7 linked regions of the Homo sapiens genome follow. The protein of the gene in region 7 purifies or fractionates together with the protein of the main gene of each other region. This does not show direct contact. Each region holds a gene or a part of one and is shown on either strand. Other genes may lie near its edges.

Region 1 (4,171 bases), on a different chromosome or scaffold from region 7:
CACAAGCAATATGTTAAATTAGATGTACATTGGAAGAGTCATTAGAGTTTAAAATATTTAAGTTCCAATGAGGGATGGTAGAGATGTTGATTTAGGCTTTTAGTATAAGTGTACCCATTAAAGTTTATAGGCCTAGCTTACAACGGAATAGGAATGAGATGTATAACTTTAAAAGTGGCTAAAATAGGAAATTTTAAAAGATAATCCAAATAGAGGTAACGGTAGAAAAGAAACAAATTTAAACATACCCAGTAATCATATATATAAACATACCCAGAAATCATAAATGTAATGAGACCGAACTCTAATTAAAAGATGGTGTTAGATTGAATTGGGGGGAGGGAAGAGAGAAAGATTTTTTGTTTAAGTTAGAAAAGGTAATTTTCTCTAATACTAACACACGAAATGTCATATAGCTATGTTAACATCAGATAAAATGGACTTTTTGGCAAAGAGCATTCATTACAAATGAAGAGGGTTACTATATAGTAAGAAAAATTTTATTACCAAGAATATATAAAATAATTTCTGTAACTCAAAGGAAAAGTAATCCAGTAGAAAAATGAGAAAAGATACAAACAAACAGTTCTCAGAAGGAAATGTTAGTAATCACAAGAAGATGATCAGTCTCACAAGTAATCAGGGAAATGCAGATCCAAATTGTGTACCATTTCACACTCACCAGGTGAACCCCAGGTGGGGGCTGTCATCTGTTGGGAACTTGGATTGGCACATCCACTTTGGAGAACAGTTTAACAGTATTTAGTCAGTTGATCTTTAGACTCTATGACCTAGCCAAGAAACGCCCACACATGAGTGCACACACACACGCACACACACAAATGTAAAAAAGAAGTCATGATGGCATTGCTGAGATCAACAAACATAAATAACCTGAGTCCAGTAGGTGAGTGGATACTTAAAGTTATGTGAGGTTATAAGCTTCTGAAATAAATGCACTTCAGGGCTGCAGGAGAGGCAGCAGTATATAAAGAACATGCACTCTAGAGACAGGCTGCCTGGGGTTTGAAGCCTGATTTTGACACTTAATAAGTAACTTGGGTAGGTTACTTAATCTCTTTGTGCCTCAGTTTTTATAAAATGAGGACCTGCACAGGTTTATCGTGAGGATTAAATAAGTTACTCTTTGCAGAATGCTTAGAATAGGACCTGGGATGTAGTGTGAGCTGTATAAGTGTTAAATTAATGCATATCAACCTGGATGGCTTACAAATATATGGATGAAGGACAAAAAGCATATGTATTAGAGATTGTATTTGGTTGCTAGAAATAGTCAAGAGTTATTCTCTTGGGTAAAAGAAATGCAAAGACACAATGTTGGAATATTTTGGGTTTTTTTCTCCCCTATTGTACATGCCGCTCCACAGTGTGCATACACGTGTGTGCATGTGTCAGTGTCTTTATCTGTTATACACTCCAGCCTTCCTTCCTGGCCCCATCTGTCTCTTCAGGTTCCCTCCATCTCTACACCCCAGCTGCCCTTACTCTGCTGCTGGGGAGGTGGTGGAGATGCTGCTTTGTGGAGCTGGGGGCTGTGGAATCATAACATGGATAAGTCACTGCTCTTGGCCCTCCTTCGCTCTTATGGAGGGACCTGCTAGGGCTATAAAGGCAGCTGAGCAGACTCAGGGCTGCCTTTCGAGGGGTGCTGTCTGTGGGGAGAGCTGCCTTTCCTCTCTGGGCAGATGTGAAGGCTGGACACCAGAGGGAGAACACTGGCCCTCCTGAGATGTTCTTGCTTGTCTTCCTCTTGGGCATGGAGGCTTCTGGCAGGGTGTGCCTCAGTGTGCTGGCAGAAGCAGACCTAGATAGATGTAGTGGTGAGTGGCACTCCTTCTCACCTGGTGAGTGGCACTCCTTCTCACCACTACAGTGCCCACAAGGGTGGGGCTGGGCACCTGCTCCCTGGGGTAGGTGGCTGCCAAGGGGCCTCCAGGAGCCAACTGAGCAGTGGTTCTGCTGGCTGCTGGGGTCACAGTTCCTCTAGGAGACACTGGCTGGACTGGGGACACCCAAGTGCAGAGCTCAGGGACTCCAGGGGAGGTGGGCATGGACACTCCACCTCTGAACCATCTCCTCTTCTTTCTCTCCCCATTGCACTTTGAGCCCCTCACAGATGGGACCTTGGTGAGGTTTCTCCCTTTTCTCCTCAGGGCATAGTGGGTATGTCCAAGGCCTACTGGACTGAGCTGCTTCATAGGAGAAACGAACCTCCCAGTATTTGACCTCCCAGTGCGTGTCTTCGAGCATCCAAACTAGCCGGCTTAGGTTCTGCTACCAGGAATGTTGGTTCAGAGTGCAGTCTGCATGTACTGTGTGTGTGTATGTGCATGTACTGTGTGTTTGTGTGAGGGTCGGGGGTGGTGTATGTGGGAGTGGTCCTGCCAGGAGGGATGGTTTGGGGAGCACTGGGTACTTTCTCTCTACTGGCATTAGGCCCCTTGGAGCATAGGGACTGCCCCTTGGGGACACTGCCACTTTTATTTCAGCTTCCTTTGGAGGCCAGCAGTTGGTTTGGCTGTGACTCAGGGATGCAGCAAGCCCCTTGTCCTGGTGTCTGGGGGCCATGCTCACTTACCTCAGGGCTATGAAGCAGCAGGCCTAAGGGGGTACCATAAGCACCCGCATCTTGGGAGCATGGCTTCTCCTCCTGCCAGGTTAGGCGAGTGGGCTGGGGGTCAAGGGGAGCCTCCTGTGCATGGATGCCCTGGCTTCCTGGGTGTGGGTGGGAATCTGTATCTATTAAAAGGCAGAGGTGGCCTGTGGTTGGAGTATTGCCAGAGGCTATAAATAGCTGAGTGTGTGAAGAAGGAGAGTCTGGGGAAGAGAGAGGAATGGGGGAGGCCCCTGGGTCTCCAGGTGGCAGCAGAGCCCTGTGGTGAGGGAGGGGCATGGGCTCTGAACATAAAGCTCTTGTAGGCATGGTGTGACTTGATGGGCTGGGAGTCATACAGGGGACTTGTGTTATGAGGGATTGTCATAGGCAGTAGGGGATGGTTGTGGCTGTAATATAGCCAATGTGCCAGGCAGTGTTCTAACCACTCTTAAAGTGCATTAACTCAATTAGTTCCTACAACTACCCTAGCTGTGAAGTATTGGAGTAGGACTTGAAGTCTGGCCCGCTCACGGCTGCCATTTTTCGCTGGGTTGCCTGTAGGAGGATCTGGTCAGATGGGGGTCAGGTGACATCTTTTTGAAATGGAGTCTTGCTCTTGTTGCCCAGGCTGGAGTGCAATGGCACGACCTCAGCTCACTGCAACCTCCGCCTCCTGGGTTCAAGTGATTCTCCTGCCTCAGCCTCCTGAGTAGCTGGGATTACAGGTGTCCGCCGCCATGCCTGGCTCATTTTTGTATTTTTAGTAGAGACCAGGTTTCACCACATTGGCCAGGCTGGTCTCGAACTCCTGACCTCAGGTGATCTGCCCGTCTCAGCCTCCCAAAGTGCTGGCATTACAGGCGTGAGCCACCGTGCCTGGCCCAGCTGACATCTTGAACCCTTGGGTCCTCTGAGATTTGGAACTCCCAGCCTCTTCACTTGGGTACTGCCCATGGTAGTGGCAAGTGGGTGGTCCCTGACTTATCAGTGGCCTGGAGAGAGGAGGTTACTCTGTTGGCCTCCCTTGTTTGGGCTCCTGCCTCAGCACAGAGGCTTGTTGCTTGTCTGAATGGAGATGGAAACTCTTTGAGGACCTAGGGCTTGGGCTGCAGGCTGAGGCCATCCTTGTTGTCCCCTCCTTTCGACATGTTGCTCTAGCCATGATACCTATACCCTTCTGTCCTTCTGTCTGTCCACCCATCCATCTATGATGTGTTTGGAATGATTCTGCCACTTAGGACGGCAAGGGTCCTGCCTTTGTCGGCTTTCCAGTCTTGTGGGGAAAGCCTGACATTTAGAAAGTAGTTGTCGAGTACATGTGTAATGTTTTATTTCTCATACAAGTGTTCATTGTGTTATTTCCTCTTGAGATTATTTTTGGTTATATTATTGGTACACTTTTTGGATGTCTGAAATAATCCTTTAAGCAACAACAGGCCATTAGTCAAGGGTGGTTAAGTTAGGTGGCAGGGGAAGCACAAGGGCCAGTGGAAATAGAGAGTTTGCCTGGTCTCAGGGGAGAGGGAAGAGCCGAAATCAGAGGAAGGTGGGTAA
Region 2 (4,641 bases), on a different chromosome or scaffold from region 7:
GGTGATGGGAGCCTTAAGCCTGAGTCAGGCAGACAGACGTTATAGTACCTTTAAATTTCCACATCTGTCACTTATTACCTGTGTCACCTAGGGCAGGGAATCTCCACTGTCTGTCTCGGTTTCCACACCTGAACAGTGGCAATGTTAACAGTTTCCTATTAGGGTGTTGTGGTGTTCAAATGGCAGCATGAGAGGAAGGTTCAGGCTCTGAAGGCGCCGCCCTGAGCCCTTAGTGGTGTGGGTGTCCCTGCACCCCCACTGGCCCCATGGCTGTTTGTCCTCAGTGCTGGGAGGAGGTCTGTGTCTCCAGTCTCTTGGCTATGGTCAGAAGAGGCACCTGGAAGGTTCCCAGGCACAAACTCTTCCTTGCCCTGTGCCTCTTAGCAGGTGAGCATCACCTGCCCCTCCCCGGGCTCATCTTTCCCAGAGTTATCTCCTAATGGGATTTGCTTCCACAAAGGAAAGACTTCAGCCCCATCCAGCACCCTTAGGTGTCCCCATTCTACAATTCTCCCACCCTGTAAGAGGACCCAATGGCTCCATCCCCCATCCCCACCCTCGCACCTCAGCCACCCCCATCACCTCACCCCGAGGCCTTACTTGTGTGAACAAAATTCATGGTGGGGAGGCTTGGGCCTGGTTCCAGGGGGCTTCCAGCCGGGTCTGCAGTCAGACGCAGTGAGGTTAGCATATGCAATTCGGATTTTCCAAGGATTTAGGGGTATCAAAGACCATTTAATTCCCTCTTCTGTGTATGTGCTGAGAAATACTAGAGCAGCATGATAGTAATGACATTAAATCATAGCTTCCCTCTTCAGAAACATAGAATAGAGATGAACTGGATCACGGGTTTGGCCTCTGGCATGTCACAGGCCTCTCCCGTCACACCTCAGTAGACAATCATTTGGGTCAAAAGCCTCCTCCTATTGTCCCCCATGGGCAACACCCAAATGTGTTCCTCATGGAATACTCAGATGCCCTGTGCCTGGGTCATTTGTTCAGCCCAGCCTTAGAGAGCTGCTTCTCATCGGAGGCTTCTCTTCCACTTGGGAATGTTGGGAGGGAAGAGGTGCATTTTGAAGCATATGCAACCATCCAGTTGGCAAACAGGATGCTAAAGCCCCAAATCTGTAGGTGAGGACGATCCTTTTATCTACTACCTGATGTGCCTGGACACTGAAGCAAAGCTTCCTTTTCCCTTCCAGAATTTCTCTTGTCTAGTTATTTGTCCAGGGAAATTTGAAAGCTCACTTACTGTGCAAGTCAGCAGGAAACAACTGGGTCTGTGCACAGCACCTAGCAAAGTTCTGCTCTAGGAATTACACTTTGGCCCTGAGGTAGATTTCTACAAGAACCTTACCTTCTAAGCAGCACTGGGGTTCATCTTTTTCCCAGTCCTCAGAGCCCATTTTCACTCCTGAGTTCTCCCCCACAAAGGACATTTTCAACGTTGAGTTTATTACTCAACAGAAAATGGAATGAAGTCCAAGACCTAAGGAGATAGAAAGGGGACCAGTTATGGCATCTTCTCACCCCAGGACACCTTGCTGCATGTCTCTAGTGCTGAACAGACCACTGGCCTTGCTCTGTAGTTTGAAATGCTCGCTGCAACCAGAAAGGCACCAAGGGGCCAGACCATGCTCTCCTGTCTATCACGCCTTCAAAGCAGAATTTCCCAAACCTTGAGTCACAGTGCTAACACACGGGGTGCAATAGCATTTTTGTGGATCTTGGCATTTTACAAAAATAAAATAAAAAAGTTAAAAGTGCATTGCTCTAGTCTTGGGGCTGGCACACTATGGCCTTTGGCCAAATCCGGTCCCTGACTGTTTTTTTAAATAAAGTTTTATTGAAACACAGCCATGCTCTTGTTTACATATTGTCTCTGGCTGCTTCGAGGCTACAATAGCATGGTTAACTAGTTGAGAGATCATCTGGCAAGCAAAGCCTAAAATACTTACCATCTGACACCTTCTATAGAAGTTTGCTGAGTCTCTGCAGTAGCCTAATCTTTGCCTAACAAAAAGCAGTTGCTCTGCAACCTCTTTTCATGAAAACCTAAGCCACCAAATGTCCCAGGAGGCTCAATCCCTAATATCTTAGGGTAGGATTGACTCACGTGACTTGCTTCATTGGGAGGGGTTGGAGGAGATATATTTATATATATAAATTCTGCACACCCTATCTCAGTTGACCGAGAGCTTTCAACATCAGCCCAGGCCAACATAGGACAGAAGTGGAGCAAAAATTGGTATTCCCATCTTACCGATAAAAAATCAAAAGTTAAGTGATTTGTTCAGAATCATATCACTTCTAAGATTGCAGAGATAGGCAGTTTGTGTACAAATCCAATCCTTTGAGAAAGGTTTAGGAGTGAGACAAAGGGAACTAAATTGTTCATGCAAAAAATAAAAATGACAAGGAAGGGCTTCAGGACTCAACAATAAGGACGGTGAGCAGGAGCAGGTGGGTAGAGCTGATGGGTCTTTAGGAACAGGGATATCTGCTATTTGATTTTAACCTGTTTGTGGTTTGGCAGTATCCCTGAATACATGAAGCACAACTGCCTTTGTCATGTTGGGGTAAATCAAAGGACACAAAAAATTGGAGGCGCTTGACAGAGAATTTGGCAGCCAGAACATCAGAGCAAGAGATGTCTGGCAGAAACGTAGGTATCCAAAGACATATAAAGATACTGTGGTGCTGCTGAAGGACAGAAGGATGCTCACAGGCTGGAGGACCTGGGGCCATCCCTCGGGGGTACTCATGAAATCTGCTGCCTGTATTAAGATAAATGCAGGGAGCTTTCACAGAATTCCCTAAAGAAGCAGTGCATCTGGCCATCTGAAGTCCATCTCTTTGCACTCAAAATCTGTTCCCAAGGACCAATATTTTCTAGACTCTAAAGTCAGTCTTCTGAGCCTTCAGAGAAGGGACTAGCATTTCCAGGGTTGGTGGATTTCCTAAGCTAGTGTCTGCCTGGCCCTCCAGCAATGCCCTACTTGTTAGTGGAAGCCCTCCTGGGAGAGAGCAGGCTGCTACTGGGGCTGAGAGCAAGGTGTTCTGGGCAGGTCTCAGAGATCATATTTAGAAATTCAGATGTGCTTCCAGTGGGGATAAAAAGCAAGGGTCTAGATGGCCAGATGCTACTCTACTTCCCCATCCATCCTGTTGGCCTTGAAAGCCAGTGCAGGAGGACCACCTACCTGGGCCAGGGATCCTCGTGGTCTGTGGCTCTGTCTTGGACTCCTGGAGCTCTGTTTGCCTTCAGTTCTCAGGATCCTTTACTTGAAGGAGCTAGGTCTGGTACTCATTTGTAATCAACAGTTTGTGAGTGGTTATGCAAATACAACACAAGTATTCCTTTGGCCAATAATAAATAGCATCCTCAGTTATCAGTGATCACTCATTTCCTGCTATTTTCCATGCCAACGGTATAAACAAATTCCTGTGGGGGTAGTGCCACTCTGCTAAGGACTGTGCCACACCTATTCAACACATTTCAAGGTACTTGTGATAGATCAGGTGGCTTCCAGTCCAGTCCAATAATACAGGTATAGAAAACAGAGGAGAGTGAAGGAAAGAGGGGACACAGGGTTTAGATCAGCCAATGAGCCTGGGAGGTTCAAGGAAGCCCTTGTTCTCATGATGGTTCTTTGCCCCAATTCCAGAGTTCATGCAAGTGGAGTCCCCATGTCCCAGAGAAAAATGTCCTCTTTTCATGTTCCCTTCCAGGTACACTCCGGGATGCACTATACCTCTTCTATGTCCCCTCTTCTTCAAAGGTGACATGCAAAAGGACCTTCCTTGATCAAGCCCTCCAAGGACTAGCTTCCTTCTACAGCCCATTAGCTATTTATCTGCACTTCCTTGCATTTTTCCATCACATTTGCCCTTGTCAGTTACTGTGTATGGCTATGTTTTACAACACCACACACAGCTGCTCAGTATGAGGGGAAATCCACATAACCAATTAAGGTAATAGCTTCTGGACCACCACCAGCAGCATGTCAATAACACAGGAACAACAGGCCAGCACAATAGTCAACCACTGTGCTCTCACTGTGCCAGGTCTGGGCTCAGCCCATTTATTTATTTTTCTCCAACCAAATCCTTTGATGACCCTGGGGGTAAATACCATCCTTCCTGTTTTACAGACAAAAGGTGGTGCAGTTTAGAGAGGATGGACAATTTACCCAAGATCACATCCTTAATTACTGGAAGAACTATAACCCAGGCCTTTCTGAGCATGCTGCAGCCTCATCTCTTAAACTTCACCGAAGACTGTGGTCTCATCCTCTAGCCTTTCTTCACATACGCATTTATATAACATACAAATATAGGAGTGTGTCTGACAAATTATTTTGTAAGATACATTTCCTACTTAATGTATCTTGCCTTTTCTACTCAATATGATATCTCAAACATCGTTCCATTTCATCAATACTTTTCTACAATAGTGTATCTAATTACTGCAAGGTATTCCATTATTTGTCTAAAGACCTGGAAAAATGTTATTCCCTTGATGGCTAGAATACAAATCCCTGATTTCTGTTAAATTCCATAAGGAGACACATATCTTTAGAGAACTTCTTGATAAACCTCTTGGGATGGGATGAGATTGTGAAGGAAAAGAGGAAG
Region 3 (4,072 bases), on a different chromosome or scaffold from region 7:
CTTCCTCTCCCCCCTGGATATTAGGAAAAATATCACAGAGACCTGTACACTTCCTGCGTATTATCCACTCCCACCCTGGATATTAGCAAAAAAATCACGGGGGGGTGCACACCCCCTGCGATACTGGGAGTCGTATCATCCTCTCCCTTCCTGAATATTAAGAACAAGATTACGACGGGGGATGTAAATTCCCTGCGCTATTGAGAGTAATATCATTTTCTCCCCTCCTGGATATTAAGAACAATATCTCATAGGGGGTGTACACCCCCTGTGGTATTGGGAGTAATGTCAGCTTCTCACCTTTTGGTTATTAAGAACAATGTCACGGGGGGAGGATGTAGACCCCTGCAATATTGGGAGTAATATCCTCTCCACCCCTGGATATTAGGAACAATATCAAAGGGGGGGTGTACAACCCCTGCAATATTTGGGTAATATCATCCTTGTCCCCCCTGAATATTAGGAACAATATCACAGAGAGTTTAAACACCCCTTGTATATTGGGAGAGATATTCTCCCCTCCCCAACTGGGTATTAGGAACAATATCAAGGGGGGGTGTACACCTTCTGTGATATTGGGAGTAATATCATCTTTCTTCACTCTGGACATTATGAACAATATCACAGGGGGGTGTACACTGGCAAGTAATATCATCCTCTCCCTTCATGGGTATTAGGTACAATACCACAAGGCGTCTAGGGACACCTGAACAATCCCCAAGGGAAAGGGGGTTCAGGCCACACTTGGGATTGCCCAGGTCAAGGTGCCCAGGAACCATGGCCTCCAGGGGAAACCAAGAGTTTCAGATGAATTCAGTGCTTGAGGGCAGAACCAATGAGAAAATCTAGTCACATTTCTACAGCGCATCACCGTTAAAAAAAGGATTCTCTGTTATGCTAGGCAAGGAGGGATGATTATTTATTAGCTTCTACAGATTAGACAATGGGGTGGGGGTGGGCTCAAGGTGAGATGATTTTTTGGGTCCAAGTCTACTCAAGACAGGCATCCCAGTCTTCGGTCTCCAAATCCACCTCCTGTCTGTCCCCCCACACTGCTCCTCAGGCCTTGTGGATCCATTGACTGTGATTTCTGTGGTTCAGCTCCCACATCAGGCAGGAAGGGCAGCTACTGGGTCTGAGATCCCACATTGCCTCCAACCCTTGCTTCCTAGCTGGCCTCCCAGGGCACCACGAGGGGCTGGGCCAGGCTGCTGTGCTGCACGTGGCAGGAGTAGGGGGCTGTGTCCTGCGGGGGCACTGCCACCACCACCCAGGACTGGTAAGTGCCATTTCCATTGTGAAGAACATCTCCCCGTAACTCAGGCTCCTGCACCTCGCCGGCCCGAGTCCAGTGCACATCAATTTTCCCTGGGTAGAAGTCGTAGGCCAGGCACTTCAGTTTCTTCTTTTCTCCTGGGGCCTGGTGGCTGGTGACCACCACAGAGGGAGGATCTGTGGAGGGATAGAGTGTGACACTGCAGGCTTGAGGTGGACTTCTCCCGGCCCAGGTCTCTTCCTACCCCCACCCCTGGATGTCAGCGATCAGCAGAGCTCGAAGCTCTGTACCTGCCCACCCCCAGCCCCGGGAGACTTTCCAGAATATCAGGGAAGGCTGACGCTTTCCCTCTTGCCCAATCCCCACCTCACCCATGTATTGACTCTGACGGCAATAAGTTGTGAATGCTCCGTGTGCTTCTCCATGTTTTCCCACATCTCAGTGGGCTTTGGAGTTCTGTCCCCCAGTCTCAGTCCAGCTGCTTGGTTCAGCCCATGCCTCTATCCAGCAACCACTTCCCTGCAGCACTGCACAATCCTGAGTCTCACTACGTCTCCAATCCAAGTCTCAGCTTGCAGCCATCAATTCCGCTCACACTGGCTTGCTCTTGTCCTTCTGGGGCTGACATTTTACACGCCTCCCTTCTCTCCACCACCCAGATGGGAGGCATCATTGTAGAGATAAAAAACGATGGGATTTGGAATCTGAAATCTGGAATTTGAGTCCCAGCTCTGCCTCTTACAGACAGTGTTACCCTCACCTCCCTAACCTCAAGCTCCTTGTCTGTTAATTGGAGATGATTTGGGGACACTCATCAAGAAAGAATGGCCTTCCTGGCCCATTCTGCCTGAAATTTTGATGATGTTCTTTTTGGACCACAAATTATATTATCCCAGGGAAGGAATAAATCCTAAAAGATGAAAGCTGGGGGTCTGAGGGACATCCAGGAACAGATGAGACCGGACTAAGATGTTGCCTGAGCTCCTAGCCTGAGATCGTCTTTTATTCTGGGCTCAGTACTGGGGAGCAGGAAGCAGTGAGTACCTTGCCGGTCCAGGATATTTTTGCTGTATTTCAGGTATTTCCGCAGAGTCGCAGGGCACTCCTCCTCCAGGTAAGCCTTGGCCCGCTGCACGTAGACTGGTTCTGCCTCCCACTTCTGCTTGGTTATCTGGGCTGCTGGGTCGAAGGGGACCCAGGCTGGGATTTCTTTGTTGAATTCAATGTAGTCCTTTCCATCATAGTAATATTTCCAGAATGCTCCGCTGCTTCTGTTATTCTCGATCTCACAACCAAACCTTCCCTGCAATACGTGAGACCCTGAAAACTCCCCCGACCCCACAGAGAGACAGTCAGCCTGGTGAGAAATTTATCAAAATAACTCTTAGTCTTGCACATTGGGCAACCCAAAAGAAATAAAGGTTTTTGCAATTCAAGCATGCAATCCCTTTATCAAGACAAATAGGTTATTACTCCAATATATACAACAGACAGAGAGGGGCTAACTCAGTTTGGTTTGGCATTTCAGGTTTGTCTCAGATGAGATATGTTCCTCCTTAAGAGAGCTACAGCCTGGGCGCTGTGGCTCATGCCTGTAATCCCAGCACTTTGAGAAGCTGAAGCGAGTGGATCGCTTGAGCCCAGGGGTTCCAGACCAGCCAGGGTGATATGGCGAAATCCCACCACTACAAAAAATATAAAAATTAGCGCAGCATGGTGGTGCATGCCTGTAGCCCCAGCTACTCAGGAGGCTGAGGTGGGAGGATCACTTCAGCCTGGGAAGTCAAGGCTGCAATGAGCCAAAATCACACTACTGCATTTCAGCCTGGGTGACAGAGTGAGACCCTATCTCAAAAAAAAAAAAAAAAAAAAAAAAAAAAGCACCAGGCCCAGTGGCTCACACTTGTAATCCCAGCACTTTGAGAGGCTGAGGAGGATGGATCACCTTAGGTCATGAGTTCGAGACCAGCCTGGCCAATATGGTGAAACCCCATCTCTACCAAAAATATAAAATTAGGCTGGACGCAGTGGCTCATGCCTGTAATCCCAGCAGTTAGGGAGGCTGAGGCCAAAGGATCACCTGAGGTCAGGAGTTTGAGACCAGCCTGGCCAACATGGTAAGACCTCATCTCTACTAAAAATACAAAAATTTGCTGGGTGTGCTGGCACATGCCTGTAATCCCAGCTACTCATGAGGCTGAGGCAGGAGAATCGCTTGAACCTGGGGGACAGAAGTTGTAGTGAGCCGAGATGGAGCCATTGTACATCAGCCTGAAAGACAGAGCAAGACTCAGTCTTAAAAAAAAAAAAAAAATTAACCAGGAGTAGTGACACATGCCTGTAGCCTGTAGTCCCAGTTATCGGGAGGCTGAGGCAGGAGAATCCCTTGAACCCAGGAGGCAAAGTTTGCAGTGAGCTGAGATTGCATCACTGCACTCCAGCTTGGGTGACAAGAGCAAAACTCCATCTCAAAAAAAAAAAAGCTACAGAATATGAATATATTTCTATCTCTTCTATAGCATCTCTTCTAAGGACAATTATTTGTTTGAATTTATGCTGAGTCCTGAGGAAGCTGTCACAACTACACCAAAGTGTACTTCCAAATTGGATAGAAATTATTTGTGATTTCATATGAGTAAAGGAAGGCTCTCTTTTTCTCTCAGTTCTAGGAAGAGTTCATATCATCACCTAAGTAACCCTAATCTGATCACTTCTTTCTACCTTTCTGGTGTTTGATATCTTTATCCCAAATCTCTAAAGCCCCAACCTTCTTGCCCATTAGCCACAACTCTCAGA
Region 4 (3,531 bases), on a different chromosome or scaffold from region 7:
CAGGACCAGACAGCACCACCCTGATAGGAGGGAATGGGTTAAGTGCTACAGTAGGGGTGAATTCCTTTGCAGCCAAGCAGAGGCTCTGAGAGGTGGCCTGGGGTGGGGGGTGGGGCTCCTACAGGGACAAGCACAATCCACTCTGCCCTCCTTGGGATGCGGGAACTTCGTCCGCCTCAGCCTCTCCCTGCCTGTCTCAGGACTTAAGTCGCATGGACCCCACCACACACTCCACTTTCTCTCTCTTCTCCAGTGGAAGCGACTCCTCTTTCCCACTGGGGCACTCTGCCTTCTCAGCCCTCACCTGAGAGCCATGTTGCTCACACTCTCACTCTGGACCCCAGCAGAGCAGGGAGTGTGAAGATGGAGAGACCACCGGCAGCTCTGTTCTGCCACAGGCTGGGCCTCTTGATCTAGGCCAGTGAGTCACCCTGCTTGGCTGCACTCCCTGCCCTGCTCCCATCCTCTCAGTCCTTTACTCTCTCCACCCCCAGCTCCAGGAACAACGCCCAACTGGCCTCCTACTCAGCTGACAGGAATCTGGTTGGAGTTGTTGTGTCCCAGCCTTCCCAAGCTTCCAGGTGTCCCAGAAACCCAGGAAATCGAGACTCATGACTCCCAGAGAGGATGGCATCTAGAAGGTGAGGAATGCTAATGGTGGAAGAAAAGGAGTTTGGGTGGGGAGGGGAGGGGAGGGGAGGGAGAGGAAACACTGAGGGCCCTAAATAAGGGGAAGGGGGACCCCACGGTGAATGAGGAATGGGAAGAGAATGGATTTCCTGGAGCAATGAGAGAGGAGGGAAATGGCGGAAGGATCTGGGAGGCCAGGCAATCTCTGCTTTCAGTTCAACAAATATTTATTGTCTTCCTCCTCTGTGGGAGCAGCTGGAAGGTAGAAGAGAAACACAGCCCGCTTTTGAAGGAAAATGAGGAACACAGAGACCTCTAGAGGCGTAGGAAGAGCACCACCCAGACTCTCAGAGGAGACCCAGGACTCCAAGAAGGCAAAAAGTCTGCACCTAGTCCCCACAGTTTACTGAGCCATCTGTCCAGGATCCAGGGACAGCAGGGAGCCTGCTTCAACCTCTGAGGGTGCCCCAGTGTCTCCCTCACCCAGGGAATCATCTGAGCACTGAGGGAAGTGGCCACAGGAAGGGGCTGAGATAAGGGCCTTGAGAGGCAATGGGTGTGTTGGGGACGGTGATCTAGGAGGGCGTGGTGAGCTCTGTAATGGAGGGTGGGGTGGAATTGGGAGCGAGAGCCCAGTGGCATATTGGGTGGGTTGACTAGATGTCGAAGAAAGGTCAGTGAAAAGTGGCCACTGTTTCCAGATGATGGTTTGACTTTGCTTTATTTGGTAAAGGGGAAGAGGAAGGTATAACTTCTTCAGGCGTCAGAGGTGCTCTGAGAGCATTTCAGGGGTTTCCCAGTTGAGAAGCTGATGGGGGTGTTACTCAATGGACCATTTCCACACAGTAGAGGGAATTGTAAGGGGTGGTGATCTGGCTGAGGGGCACTGTGGTGGAATGGGAATTTAAACAGTAGGAGAGAATCAAGAGAGGAGCTTTGAATCTACCATTTTGAGAAGAGGAAGGAGGAAGGGGTGATAAGAGAGAGTCTGCAACCTTGGGGTAGTGGAGAAAGCAGAACCACTCTTTTGGGAAGGAGGGAAACTGAGCTAACCCTATGCCTGGGCACTGGACTTCTCCCATATGGGATATAGTGTATGTGCTTGTTTGTGCCCAAGGCATGCACACACACAACAGTTGACTTCTTATGGACTGTTGAGTAACTCTCCTTGGGGTAGGAAAACTTCAGGGTCAGCTAGCTGGGGCCCCAGAGGCTTCACTTGGGCTAGGATATCCCGGATGGAGCGGCAGGGGATCTTTCCAGCACTGCTGGAGCCACAGGGCTTGGCACCAGCGGAGGGATCAGGATGGGGAGAGCCATCGGGGCCCCCAGTCAGTGTCAAGGAGGAGACAGACATGCAAGGGTGACCAGAAGAGCTGGACTTGCTGCCACAAGGCTGAAGGATGATTTTGCCACTGGATTGGGAACTGGAGCTGCTGCTGAAGGAGCCGGTGCCTGGTGGGGAGCAGGGGCTCTGGGAAGCACTGCCGCAGGGATGGTAGGGTAAACCGGAGCTGCTGGAAATGCTAGAACTGCTGGGGACTCGAGAACTGGAGGGAGAGCAGGGTCCCTTGGAGCCCGTGGAGCCGCCTCCACAGAGCTGGACCCCACCAGTCCCCACTGGCTGGAATGCAATGGCCGAGGAAGCTGCCGACTGGCTGGGGATGATGGGGTTGCTGGAGAAGTATTTGCCCTCAGAGATGGGGGGCCCAGCTGCAAAGGAAGGGACCCCTGGAGAGCCTTTCACAGGGTTCTCTTTGGTGAAGTAGCCCACAGGGTAGATTTTACCCTTACTGTAGGTCATGCCTGGAACCAGATAACTGTCAGAGGAGCCACCCACCACCTCGTAGCCACCATAGGATTTGTCTACAGAGGTGATTGGGGGACAGGGCTTGCCTGGAAGGCCACCATTGCTACAGGGGGGACCTTGAACCACTCCAGGGGCACCAGAACCGTGCTGGTCCACCACCACCACCACAGGCCTCTGACCCCCTGACACAGAGTGGGAGCTGGGGATGTAGGGGCCGGAGTGCGAGACGATGGGCCCTCCACTGCAGGGAGAGTCGGGGATGTCCGAACTACAGGGACGCTGGTTGGAGCTGACGCTTTGGCCACTGCTGGATACCCCAAAGGTCTGGGAAGAGGAAGAGCTTTGTCCAGGCTGGGAAGGGTTTAGTATTCCGCGGTAAGAGTTGTCATTGGTTGGCAGAGCAGAGCCATTCCCTACTTGGAAGCTGCTGCTGCTGAACTGAAAGCTGCTGCTGCTGCTCGAATGAGAGCTGCTGCTTCCCGAGTGAGAGCCGCTGTTTCCCGAGTGAGAGCTGCTGCTCCCCAGCTGGGAGGAACCGGATGCACCTTGTAGACTAGAGCCAGATCCGGAGGAGTAGCTGACCTGGGAATACCCCGTTCCTGGCTTAAAAGATCCTGCAGAACCACCCTGGGCAATGCTGGATCCGCTGGAGCTACCACTGGAGCCACCACCAGAGCTTCTGGCACTGGAAATGGAGCTGCCAGAACTGCTGGAGCCACTGTAGCTACTGAAACCGCTGGAGTCACCCTTCCCAGTGAGGCAGGGGTCGTTAGGGGAGGTGATACGCGTGGGGTCCTTACAAGGGTCTGAGAAGGTGCCAATGCTCTTAGCCAAGGTCCCTGTGGAGGAAAGCAGTGGTTAGTAAGGGCCAAGGAGGCTTGGCTTCCTCCCTCACCTTTCTGCCTTATCTCAGTCATCGGCCTCTCGGGTTTCTCCCAAGCAGAGCGCAGGGAGAGTTTAGGGATGGAGAAAGGAGGAAGAACTGGCTATTGTCTCTAAAGGATATTGAGGTGGCCGAATAAAGGCATTTCTTTGTTTGGGAAGGGTGGGCAAACACCAACCAGAAAAATAGAAAATTAGGTGCCAAAGTG
Region 5 (3,500 bases), on a different chromosome or scaffold from region 7:
TAAACCCGGTGCCCTTCTTTGGGCTGAGAAATCTGAGGAATCCTTGCTAAAGGTGTGCCTTGGCCTCCCAACAGAAGACCCTCACAAGAGCCCTGCACTTGAAGAGCCACTTCAGGCCTGCTCTGTGGCTCACCTGTTTTAAAGGACTGATATTGCTTTAAGAAGAAATCACTCTATATACATCAGAAATTAAATTATTATTTTTAAAAGCACATTTAGAACTAAGTGGTGGTAAGACATATCTTCTCTCCCCTGTTAGAAGTAAGAGAAGCCCCATAAACAAACTCTGATGACCACAGCAATATACTTTCTCCTCCTTTCTGGAAAACAAAGAGTGGAGAACATGTCCCCATTCCACTTGTTAATTTGCCCTGTAGATTTCTGCCTTCATTCCTTAAGAAATATGTTTGAGTCCTCACTCTGTGTCAGGCACTGGGGCACTAGAGCAATGCCCAGGAAATGGTCCATATTGATGCTGCAGACTGACTCTCAGCCCAACAAGCCCCACAGCCTTCTCCAAACCCTCAAGAACCTTCCAGCTGTTTGCCTGACCTGGTCCTCCTCCCCTTCCGTGACTGCATTCTAGGAGGAGGGGTATGTGGGTTGGAAAGGCTGAGAGATCATTGACTTCAGGACTATCTGTGCCATAAAGAGGGAAATGAGGCCCAGAGTGGACAAAGGAAGAGATTGTGGTTGCAGTGTGCATCAGTGGTGAAGGCAATTCTGCAGAAATGCATTGAACAGGCTGCTTCGCCTCACTTTCTCCATGAACCAGTGAGTTGATGGATCCAGCCTCTATCCTCAGAGAGAGATAAAGATTCACAAACAGCTCACACACAAGGATGACTGTGGCCAGCATCATGCAGCAGGGGTGGACCCAAATTGGAGGCACCACTTATGTCCCAAGACTTCTCCCATCCCCACATTCATGAAGCTTCTCTCTCTAGAAAAGCACTGGGCAGTAGACATCCATAACACTCTGCCAAAGATGTTCAACAAATTCTTCAAGAGGGGTTTACCTGGATTTTGGAGATCCTCTAGAATTTTCCTTTCATACACCCACCTGTGGACAGTGCTACATCCTCCCTCGATCTGAAGCAAGCTTCGTGTGGAATAGACAAGAAGCACCGGATCTTTTGGAAGGGAAGGTCTCATACTCACAGTACATTCAGAAGTCCACTGAGCCAGCCAAATGCATCTGCCTTTCTTGCTTTATTATTTATACTTCCATGGCCTCTTGGAAGAGTAAGGCCAATACAATGAGCTGGCGTGTATGGGCAGGTGATGGAGGCTTTGGAAGCAATGGCCACACCACCTCCCTGGGAGCTCTCCCTGTGGAGGCAGCGGCATGATATCGTACCGGCCACACCCACTGGGCTGTGGCTTCCCTAATGAAGTCCACTAGACACCTTTTGCAACGACTCTATTTCCCAGTTGCTCTCTGGGTATGGAAGCCAGAATAGTCTACAAGTAGATGAGCCTAGAGTCCTAATACTGAATATTCAACCCAAGTATCATCATTGCTGCCCATGGGAACAGGTTGATAACTGGGCTTCTTGGGGTCATTCCCATGTATCCCTCACCATTTTCTTTTGCTATTTTTTCATGTGTTCCAAATTAGCTTAGCTCACATGGAGTCCTTTGGGGAAAAAGTTCGAGGACAGACAAATAGACAACTAAATGCGTAGATTCCGTTAGGAAGAACAGGAATTAAAAATTCACCTCAAAGTTCATGATCATGGAAATTACAAATTGTTTTCCTATTGCACATTTGTTGTGCTGGAGTGGTGAGACTATGGTTGGGTTCTCTTGTGCTGGGGTGATGAGACTATGGCTGAACTCTGTTGTCTCTGCCTCCCCCTTACTTTTCTATATTTTCCAAATTGTCTTTAAAAAACAGATATTACTTTAGGATTAATTTTTCAAAGGCTTAAAATAAAATAAAATAAAATTCTTATCTTCAGTTTTACCACTTGGAGAGAGAAGCATTGAAGATGTCTGGGAACATTCCAAACCCACTGATGCTGGGATGGAAGAGCAATAAGCTCAACATGCCTATCTTCAATTCTGCTTAATCTAATGAGCTCCAGTGAGCAGAAAAAACATTCACATATTTCTTCCCCATTGAGTGGTGTTTCACAGTAGGTCGTATCTGATCGAAACACCTCGGAGGCCTCGGAAGAGCCATGGGTGTTGTTTTCCCTTCCTTTGGGTTGCTGCTTTTAGCAAAGACATGACTCTCATTCCCAGAGCTATTCAGAGCAGGTGACCCAGACAAACCTTCTTGGAAAGAGGAGACACTAGTTCATTCCCAGGCCTGGTTCAGCCACAGACTCTATGCACTCAGGGCCTAGATGAACAAGGACATGGGGATATGGGTTCCAGAGCTGCCCAGATCAGAAACCACCCCTGAAGATGCCCCTGAGCCACCACCTTCCCTCGCCCAGGCAGCAAGGCCTGCCTGCTGGGATGCATGGGTCAAAGACACCATGTGAACGGCGAGATGAGAGACTTCACACTGGCCGGCTCTGGTCACCAAGGGGTTGCAGAGGAGACAGAAGGACAGGCTGAGACCAAGGAGTACAGGTGGTCCTATTGTGACTGTAGAGGCTATAGTGGTGGAAGATCAGAGCCAGTGAGGTGGACACTGACCCAGAATCCAGGTCTGTACATCTGGTTTGGGAGGGAAAACCTGCCCTCTAATGACAGGGTGAGGCCTGTGTGAGTCTGAGGGCCATGCCTCCCTGCCTGCCCCAGACACTCTCTGCTCCAGGGTAAATTTCCACGGGAGACATGCAGGAAGAGGCCAGGGTAGGGATGCCCACTGAGCGACACGGGCAGCACTGGGGATGCCTGAGTTCAGACAGTGCCAGAGGCCAGTAGGCCATGGGCAGAGGGTAGCCACAGGTGGGCTGCCGGCCAGCCAGGCGCTACACCTGGGTTGGGAGTTGCCTGTCCTGCCTGGGGAAAAGAGCCCCGGAGGAGGTGCACGTCTGTGGAGAGCAGTGAAGGATATAGGCATGGGAGGGAGCAGCCCCCTTCACGTGCCCATTAAGGGACCTCAGCCTAGACTTGAGGCTGCCCCGACTGCCTGTAGTTAAGATTCAGGTCCCATGGATTTGTGCCTGGTGTTCATCAGGGGCTAGAAGGATGAAGGAGATTGTCCAGCCTGGGAAGATTATTGTTATAAGTTAATGGGCCTAAGGCACTGGTCGGAGGCTGAGGGGTGGCCTGAATATTTTTTACATTATTGCCATGTGTAGGGGTGAGAGGGGAGCTAGGAATTTCTGGTCCTCATCCTCACTCTTTGGATCTCCCAGATGGAAGAAACATGTTAGTGACCATGCCACACCCTAACTCCAAGAGCTCTGGTCTGATGGGAACACAGAACACAGAGATACAAGTCACACTAGGTAAGGGCCAAGGTAGAGGTAACTCTGGGAGGTGAGAACACACAAGAGGCACCTGATCCTAGCTGGGGTGCTCTGGACTGTGTCATA
Region 6 (3,542 bases), on a different chromosome or scaffold from region 7:
GGCCATGGGACCCTGGAGGCAGAGCTGGAGCCACGGCTGTTGGAGGCGTTGCAGGGCCTAGTCATGGCTGAGGTGGCCGCGGGGGGCTGGCATTCTGTGTGTGTGAGTGGTGAGTGACTTAGTGCTTCTCCAGACGAGCTCATGATCTTGTGCAAACCTTCCTCCTCGTTTTCCAGTTTGGGTGGGGGCCTACCCAGGCCTCCTTCCAAATTCATCCATCCATCGCCCAGTCAGTTATGACTCCTAAATGCCTCTCACCCTCGGCCTCCTCTGCCTGCACCATGGCCCACTCACGCCTGGACTCTGGCATTTGTTCCTAGCTTCTCTGTTACTGGTCTCACTGCCCCTCCCCTCCTCTCCCCACCTGCTCCCAGCCAGGACTGTCTCTTAACAGTGCTGCCGAGGGAGTATGGAGTGTGAGGGGGCAGCTGAGCCAAGGAAAACGCAGAAACGCTGCAGTTGCCTAGGGGGCCATGATGTGTGGCACAGGGTGGACACTGGGGTGCCCACCAGGCACCAGGATGGTGATGAGTGTGTCCCTGTGGTGGTGCCACAGCTGGCCAGAGTGAGGAGTTTCACTTGGTGATCCAGGTGTAGCTCCTTCCTAGGCTGTTAGAGCCCATGCAGAGAGGGTGAGGCTGGGAACAGATGATCTTTGTCTGTGTCTGGGGCTCTCATTCTGGCTGCTACGTAGATCACCTGGAAGCTTAAAAAATTACCAATGCCAGGGGGCCGGGCGTAGTGGCTCATGCCTGTAATCCCAGCACTTTGGGAGGCCGAGGTGAGTGGATCACGAGGTCAGGAGTTCGAGATCAGCCTGACCAACATGGTGAAACCCCGTCTCTAAAAAAAAATACAAAAATTAGCTGGGTGCAGTGGTGTGCGCCTGTAGTCCTGGCTACTCGGGAGGCTGAGGCAGGAGAATCGTTTGAACCTGAGAAGCAGAGGTTGCAGTGAGCCGAGATCGTGCCACTGCACTCCAGCCTGGGCGACAGAGCGAGACTCAGTCTCAAAAAAAAAAAAAAAAAAAAAAGAAAAGCTACCAGTGCCTTCCTCCACACCATATTCTCATGGAATGGGCCTGGGCTGGTTGCCAAGCTCAGGAAACCCTGGGCTGAGCCTCGCCAACGTGGCAAAACCTCGTCTTTGTACAAAAAATATAAAAATGAGCTGGGCGTGGCGGCTCGTGCCTGTGGTCCCAGCTACTCGGGAGGCTGAGGCTGGAGGATCACTTGAGCCACGCGTGAGTGGAGGTTGCAGTGAGCCAAGATCACACCACTGCACTCCAGTCTGAGTGACAGAGTGAGACTCTGTCTGTCTAAAAAAAAAAAAAAAACAAAAAAAAAAAACCCCAACCTTGGGCTGGAGAGACCAGAGGGCTGGAAACAGCCCAGTGGGACGCCCTGCACTCAAGGTCCAGAAGGAGTTTGAGGCCTTAAGTTTAGTGTAGAGGCTGAAGCACGGACACATCCCACCAGACTTCCTAGTTTCAGATCATTGCTCGGGCCCTGGGACCTCGGGCCTGGTACTTAACCCCCTCTGTGCCTCAGTTGTGAATAAAATAGGGATCCTGCGTAAATGGTGATATTGTCATAAAACCACCTGTAGGGCTATTGTGAGAATTAAGTGATTATATTTGAAAAGCATGTGAAACATCAGCATGGATTAAGCACTTCATAAAGCAGCTATTGTTAGAAATTTTTAGAATTAGGCAGCTGTTCCAACCAAAAAGCTCCAGTGTTGTGGGAGGCCAGGAAGGGGAGAGCTGCACGTGGCTTTCATCAGGACCGGCTGTGGGTGCAGTTGAAAAAGGGGCACAGGCCGGCCCAGTGGTTGTTTTATTTACTTATTTAGAGACAGGGATTTTGCCATATTGCTGAGGCTAGTCTCGAACTTTTGAGCTCAAGTGATCTACCCATCTCAGCCTCCCAAAGTGCTGGGTTACAGGCATGAACCAATGCACCTGGCCCTGGCCCAGTGGTTTTGAAAGGGAGACCACTGCGGTACTTCTAGGGATACATTTCTGAAATGAGGGGCTATTTGGCAGCATAAGAATGGAAGTAGAAGGTCCAGTAAGGGACTTAAAGGGTGATCTGAAGGCATTGAGGGGATGTGAACCTAAGACAAGCCCCTGGGGCCCGAGGGGAAGCGCCTTGGCCTGGAGTGCTACCTTGGGCAGGGCAGGCTTTAGTTGTCCCCAGGAGCGGATGCGATGGGGAGGAGAGTTTGGATGGATGCAGGGGCTTCACAGTCTGTTTCATGTGTCCCCTTGATCTCTTTCAGAGACTGGGGATATTTATATCTGGGGCTGGAATGAATCAGGGCAGCTGGCCCTGCCCACCAGGAACCTGGCAGAGGATGGAGAGACTGTCGCAAGGGAAGGTGAGGGTCATCTCGGCTCCCACAGCCGTCTCCCCAGGATGTGGCTGTCATTCCTAACTCCTGGCTGTATGCTGGCCTCAGAGCTACACTGCTCAGATGGAGCATGTGAGCCCCTTATGGGAGGGAGCATTGGCAAGGCTGATGCCGGTCTTGGCACAACACACTTGTGCAGCAGTGCCAGCCCTGCCTGCAGAATGTAGGGGTTGGGAGCACCAGCTTTGGAGCTAGGCAGTCGTGTACCTCAGAGCTGTTGTGGCAATAAGTGACTGCATGAATAAGATTTAGCTCAGGGCTCAGTTGGTGTTCACATCATTATTATCATTCTGAAGCCACAGAACTGAATGAAGATGGTTCTCAGGTGAAGAGAACGGGTGGGGCTGAGGATGGAGCCCCTGCCCCCTTCATAGCTGTCCAGCCCTTCCCGGCATTACTGGATCTCCCCATGGGCTCAGATGCAGTCAAGGCCAGCTGTGGATCCCGGCACACAGCTGTGGTGACACGTGAGTGGGGCTGGGAGGCACTCTGCTCCACTCGAGCTGGTGCCTACGGAAGGGGGTGTGGTCGACGGAAAAACTTCTGTCTTAAGGCTTCTGTGGCTCATACAGAGCAGCTACCTTGCTCAGTGGATAAGCCCCAACCCCCTTGTTGTTTCACAGTAGTTCCCCAGCCTGTCAGGCCCAGAAGTTTCTTCCTTCTGGTGGGAGGCTGATGCTTTCTGTCCTCCCTGCACGGCCACAGACACATTCCCTGCCCGCCGCCGCCTCTGACAGCAGGGACTGTCCAGTCTGGCATGGAAGACTGCGGCGCTCGGTAGCATGGCACACAGGAAGATCCGCCACTTTTTCCCTCGGGATCCTCTGCCATGCCACGTGTGATCAGCCAGTTGTTAAGAGAATATGTTGTTCCATGCCAGGCAGATCTCATGAGGATTGTAATATGCTAGCTGTGGGCTGTGCCAAGCTGGGCTGGACAGATGCCTTGCCAAAGAACCGTAGTGACAACTATCGATTGTCCTTTTGCTTTCAGGAACAGGGGAGCTCTACACCTGGGGCTGGGGTAAGTAAAAGGATTGTTTTTGTGACCCTGAAACCAAGGAGAAGAAAGACCTGGGAGTACAGGGCAGGTGACAAAGCCAACAAGACTGGAGGAAGCAGGGGCCT
Region 7 (4,171 bases):
TGAGCTCTCTGGTCAGCAGAAGCCATCGGCTGTGACCTTGCCACCAGTGAGTCCTCCCAAGCGGTCTGCTCACTTCTAGACACTGGACCGAGCAGACCCAATGGCCCTGATCATGTTCACCGGCGACTGGTGGGGAATTTCTAGAGGACGTCTGTTGAGGGCAACCTCCGTGCTCCCTGATCACGCCCTTGTCCTGCACAGCCAGGTGTCACTGCTACTCGGGCCCCCCTACATCTCTGGGGCCACAGATGTGGGATATGGAGGTGGTCAGAGCCCTGGCTAGGGTCAGGAGGTGCAGATACGGGTTCTGCCCCAGACCCCGAGCAGCGGTGGCCCTTCTCCCCTCTGGGCCTGCTCTCCAGAACTCAGATTGCCCTGCCCCATCAGAGGGCTGAACCCAGTACAGTTCCTTGTGTCCTGAACGTCCCACAGCTGCTTTTTCTGCAGCCTCTGCTTGGAGTACCACTTCCCCAGTGATGCGCACTCAGCAAACAGAGCTCAGCCTAGACCTCTCCCCCTCCAGGAAGCCTTCTGGGACTCCCCACACGTCTTCTGTGCATGTGGTCCCCACCCCTACCCCCATGTAAGTTTCTGCAAGGACCACTGCTCCATGAGGCAGGGGGTGTCTGTGTTACTCAGAGTGGACCCACAGCATGAGGTGCAGTCATGTGTGCTTGGAAAGCAGAGTAAGGACTGCTGCAGCCAGCAGGCCCGTGCCTCTCACCGGCAGGCCACGTCCAGGTCACAGTTCTTGTCCACGTAGCAGGGACTCTTCCCTCCCAGCTCCAGCGTGACAGGGGTCAGGTGCTTGGCAGCAGCCGTCATGATGATCTTCCCCACCCCCGTGCTGCCCGTGTACAGGATATGGTCGAACCTCTCCTTGAGCAGCTCCGTGGTCTCAGGGACACCCCCATTGATTACTGGGTACAGATCCTTCCATGCAAGGAGAGAGGGGAGGCTCAGCAAAGACCAAGCCCCTCCTCGCTCTTGCAAGTGTGGGTGAGTTGCAGTGGCCAAGACCAGCAGCCCCGAAGCTCAGCACCCCACCTTGGGCGGGGGGTAGCAGTAACTGGCAGTAGACCGCCTTTCCTGGCCCAGGGGCTCTGTTCACCCCAATGAGAGAGGGCAGCTGCTAAGAACAATCCTCAGCCCCACCAGTAGCTTGGCCCCTTGCTGCAAGAATTCACTATTTCTCACCCCCCAAAGACCTGGCCCTAGCTCAGTTATGAGGCCATGGAGTTACGAGGCCCTGGAGGGCAACTCACCTTGTCCAGGTACTGGGGGATGATGGTAGCCAGCAGGCTCGCCATGTTCTCACTCAGCTCCGAGGGCTTGAGGACCACTGAGTTCCCTGCAGAGCACACCGAGCCAGGCCTATGCCCAGGGTACTTCACCAGAGGCTCTGCCCTCCCAAGGACCACACCTGAAGCCTCCCCTCCATTGTGTGTCCTCGGGACAGTGGATGGAAGAGTTGTTAGCAAACAAGCACATGTCACGGGGCACACCCAGGAGCACGCACGGGCACATGACAGAGGGACACACACGGGCACACGCTGGCCAGAGCTGCACCACCTGGCCCTCTGAGTTGCTGAGATGTTGGAGGAAAAGCAGAAAGGGGAGAGAGGCTCTGGGGGCCCGGTTGGTAGAACAGCGCTGGCCCATTCTAGGAAGGAAGCCCTGATGCATATTAGGTGACAGAAGCTCCAGCCCCCCAACAGGGGTGGGGGAAGGCAGGCCCTCTCTGTATCACCAGGTGTGGACACCTGAGCCTGACTGGACCTCAGGCACCAAGAGGCCTGGCTAAACAGCTTGGTCCCCACAGCCTCCTGTGACAGACCCAGCAAACCCTTATCTGACCCCAGGACTCTTAACACAGGCCTGAGCCCATCCTGGCTTGGCTCCACGCTGGGGGACGGTGCTCCCCCAGCTTCCCTTCCCACAGGGCCATGCACCTGCAGCGATGGCGCCCACCATGGGCTGGATGGTGAGGTTGAAGGGGTAGTTCCAGGTGCCAATGACGAGGACCACGCCCAGTGGCTCCGAGTGGATGTAGAGCTCGTCCTGCTGAGTCTGGGGCGTCTTCTCCACGGGCTCATCCGCGGCCCACTCAGGGAGCTTCTGGATCATGTACTCGATCTCCTCTAGGACGTACACCACCTCCTCATAGTAGGCGTTCCATTCATTCTGCAGCGACAGAGCCGGAGTGAGCTTCCAGGGCCAGGGCCCGCCTGCAGCTGGGGCGAGTGGGGAGCCCCACTGCTCAGCTGCCAGGGTGATGGGGGTCACTCACCCAGCCCAGGGTGGGGGCAGCCGCAGAAGGCTCCCAGGGGAAGCAGAGCCAGGATTAGCCGTTGGACCTGTGGGTCTGAGAGGACCCCTTTCTGCCAGAGGGGGGCCCAGGTAGGTTTGCGGCCCCAGGGGAGAGAGCCGGTGAAGGGACCAGGCATGGGCAACGGAATGGATCCAGGTAGGGGGAATAGAGCCGGGCAGGGGAGAGTAGATTCAGGCAGTGGGAATGGATCCGGGGAGGGGGGGATGGATCCGGGGAGGGGGGATAGATTCGGGCACTGGGAGCTGGATCCGGGCAGGGTGGAGGGAGCCAGGCCCTTTAGTTGTCTGGAGGGGGATGCAGGACCAAGGGCTGCTGGGCGCTCAGGGCCTCCTGTGGGGAGCAGGGGTGAGAAGAGGAGATGCAGACGGCGGAAAACGCGTCTCTTTTATAAACTTGGGCTGTGAAGAGCAACACAGAAGCTGTAAAGTCAACAGAATGGGTTTCCTTGTTGTTTCTGGTTTAAGATGAGAAGTCCTGAGCCATTTCTTGAAAAGTGCAGTAGCAGGCCCGGCGCTGTGGCTCATGCCTGTAATCCCAGCACTCTGAGAGGCCGAGAACTCCTCCTGAGGAACTCCTGAGGGCAGGAGTTCAAGACCAGCCTGTCCAACATGGCGAAACCCTGTCTCTACTAAAAATACAAAATTAGCCGGGCATGGTGGTACACGCCTGTTGTCCCAGCTACTGGGGAGGCTGAGGCAGGAGAATTGCCTGAACCCGGGAGGCGGAGGTTGCAGTGAGCCGAGATCGCGCCATTACACTCCAGCCTGGGCGACAGAGCGAGACTCTGTCTCAAATAAATAAATAAAATAAAATAAAAATAAAAGTGCAGGAGCAAAGAGGGTAGTCGGTGGGAGGATGGGCTCCGGAGCGCTGGACCCCAGGCAGCATGTGGGGACAGCAGGGGGCTGCGAATGCAGAGGTGTCTGGTCTTGCTCAGGGTGAGGGACGGAACAGCCCCTGTGAGAACTGGGAGGGAGGGGAGAGCCCCCCATGCCCTCCGGGGTGCCAAGCTGCTCTGGTTCCTGGTGTGGAGAACCAAGTGGTCCTGCGTGGGGCTGAGGAATGGGGAGGACCAGAAGTTCAGGGTGTCGGGGCAGCAGGAAGTTGAAATGGGGGACGCTGCGGGCGGGACGCGGAGGCCGGGCCAGGAGGAAAAGGCCAGAGGGCGGAAGAGGCGGCGGGGGCGCGCGGGGCGCGGCGGAGGGGAGGGCGGTGCGCCCAGTCTCCGCGACCGAGGGGCCAGGTGGCCCCAAGTCCTTCCTGAACCTCTCTGGGTCGCACTCTCCCCAGCCCCTCCCCCCACGCCCCATCGCATGGCCCCGACACTGGCAGAAGGCGGCCGCCCAGCCTGAGCACCTTGTGCAGGTCTGCGGCCAGCGCGCCCACCAGCTCCTGCTCCTGCTCCTGGATCAGGCGCTGCAGCGCCTCCAGCTGCTGGATCCGGAACTGCAGCGGACGGGTCCTGCCCGAGCTGAAGGCGGCGCGGGCGCGCTTCACGGCCTCGCTGATCTTGCTCATGGCGCCTGGGGACAGAGAGCACCTGCAGCTGGCTGAGGGGCACGAGCGCGCCCTGCCTCCCACCCTGCCTGAATTCTATAGGAAGGGACTTCCCTGGGCTCGGCCTTGGGGAAAATGGCCTTTCCGCTGGAAGGTCCACTTTCTGCCTCGCCTCCTCTCCCGCCCCTCACTCAGACGCCTGGGCCCTGGCTGCCTTGCTAGCCCCTGAGAAGGTGACACCCGCCGCAACCCGAGTCCTAAGCCGAACTGCTGCTGGGGGCTCTTGGCAGCGTGCTCGCGGCAGGGCCTTTCCCGGCCTTTTCCGCTCCCTTACTTGCTTGC

The links.
Region 1: the proteins of ALDH3A1 (region 7) and ACVR2B purify together in Homo sapiens (co-immunoprecipitation; one large-scale study listed by IntAct). This does not show direct contact.
Region 2: the proteins of ALDH3A1 (region 7) and IL37 purify together in Homo sapiens (affinity purification with mass spectrometry; one large-scale study listed by BioGRID and IntAct). This does not show direct contact.
Region 3: the proteins of ALDH3A1 (region 7) and AZGP1 purify together in Homo sapiens (affinity purification with mass spectrometry; one large-scale study listed by BioGRID and IntAct). This does not show direct contact.
Region 4: the proteins of ALDH3A1 (region 7) and CDSN purify together in Homo sapiens (affinity purification with mass spectrometry; one large-scale study listed by BioGRID and IntAct). This does not show direct contact.
Region 5: the proteins of ALDH3A1 (region 7) and SERPINA12 purify together in Homo sapiens (affinity purification with mass spectrometry; one large-scale study listed by BioGRID and IntAct). This does not show direct contact.
Region 6: the proteins of ALDH3A1 (region 7) and RCCD1 purify together in Homo sapiens (co-immunoprecipitation; 3 studies listed by BioGRID and IntAct, with this or other methods). This does not show direct contact.

Annotation. Positions count from the first base shown.
Region 1 is NC_000003.12:38,470,683-38,474,853, forward strand, and holds part of ACVR2B (activin receptor type-2B precursor), read left to right. Parts: exon of another isoform or gene 1-858; coding exon of another isoform or gene 859-907; intron 908-4,171. UniProt on the Homo sapiens protein: Transmembrane serine/threonine kinase activin type-2 receptor forming an activin receptor complex with activin type-1 serine/threonine kinase receptors (ACVR1, ACVR1B or ACVR1c).
Region 2 is NC_000002.12:112,909,814-112,914,454, reverse strand, and holds the start of IL37 (interleukin-37), read right to left. Parts: upstream 3,291-4,641; 5' UTR 3,207-3,290; intron 1,493-3,206; 5' UTR 1,443-1,492; coding exon 1,361-1,442; intron 664-1,360; coding exon 601-663; intron 1-600. UniProt on the Homo sapiens protein: Immune regulatory cytokine that acts as a suppressor of innate inflammatory and immune responses involved in curbing excessive inflammation.
Region 3 is NC_000007.14:99,965,835-99,969,906, forward strand, and holds the end of AZGP1 (zinc-alpha-2-glycoprotein precursor), read right to left. Parts: intron 2,597-4,072; coding exon 2,321-2,596; intron 1,453-2,320; coding exon 1,169-1,452; 3' UTR 896-1,168; downstream 1-895. UniProt on the Homo sapiens protein: Stimulates lipid degradation in adipocytes and causes the extensive fat losses associated with some advanced cancers. May bind polyunsaturated fatty acids.
Region 4 is NC_000006.12:31,114,251-31,117,781, forward strand, and holds the end of CDSN (corneodesmosin precursor), read right to left. Parts: intron 3,280-3,531; coding exon 1,775-3,279; 3' UTR 837-1,774; downstream 1-836. UniProt on the Homo sapiens protein: Important for the epidermal barrier integrity.
Region 5 is NC_000014.9:94,502,970-94,506,469, forward strand, and holds part of SERPINA12 (serpin A12 precursor), read right to left. Parts: intron 1,254-3,500; exon of another isoform or gene 1,064-1,253; intron 1-1,063. UniProt on the Homo sapiens protein: Adipokine that modulates insulin action by specifically inhibiting its target protease KLK7 in white adipose tissues.
Region 6 is NC_000015.10:90,957,617-90,961,158, forward strand, and holds part of RCCD1 (RCC1 domain-containing protein 1), read left to right. Parts: coding exon 1-109; intron 110-2,283; coding exon 2,284-2,382; intron 2,383-2,711; coding exon 2,712-2,882; intron 2,883-3,408; coding exon 3,409-3,438; intron 3,439-3,542. UniProt on the Homo sapiens protein: Plays a role in transcriptional repression of satellite repeats, possibly by regulating H3K36 methylation levels in centromeric regions together with KDM8.
Region 7 is NC_000017.11:19,741,280-19,745,450, forward strand, and holds part of ALDH3A1 (aldehyde dehydrogenase, dimeric NADP-preferring), read right to left. Parts: exon of another isoform or gene 3,856-4,171; 5' UTR 3,851-3,855; coding exon 3,689-3,850; exon of another isoform or gene 2,291-3,688; intron 2,185-2,290; coding exon 1,953-2,184; coding exon of another isoform or gene 1,352-1,952; coding exon 1,266-1,351; intron 934-1,265; coding exon 725-933; intron 1-724. UniProt on the Homo sapiens protein: ALDHs play a major role in the detoxification of alcohol-derived acetaldehyde. They are involved in the metabolism of corticosteroids, biogenic amines, neurotransmitters, and lipid peroxidation.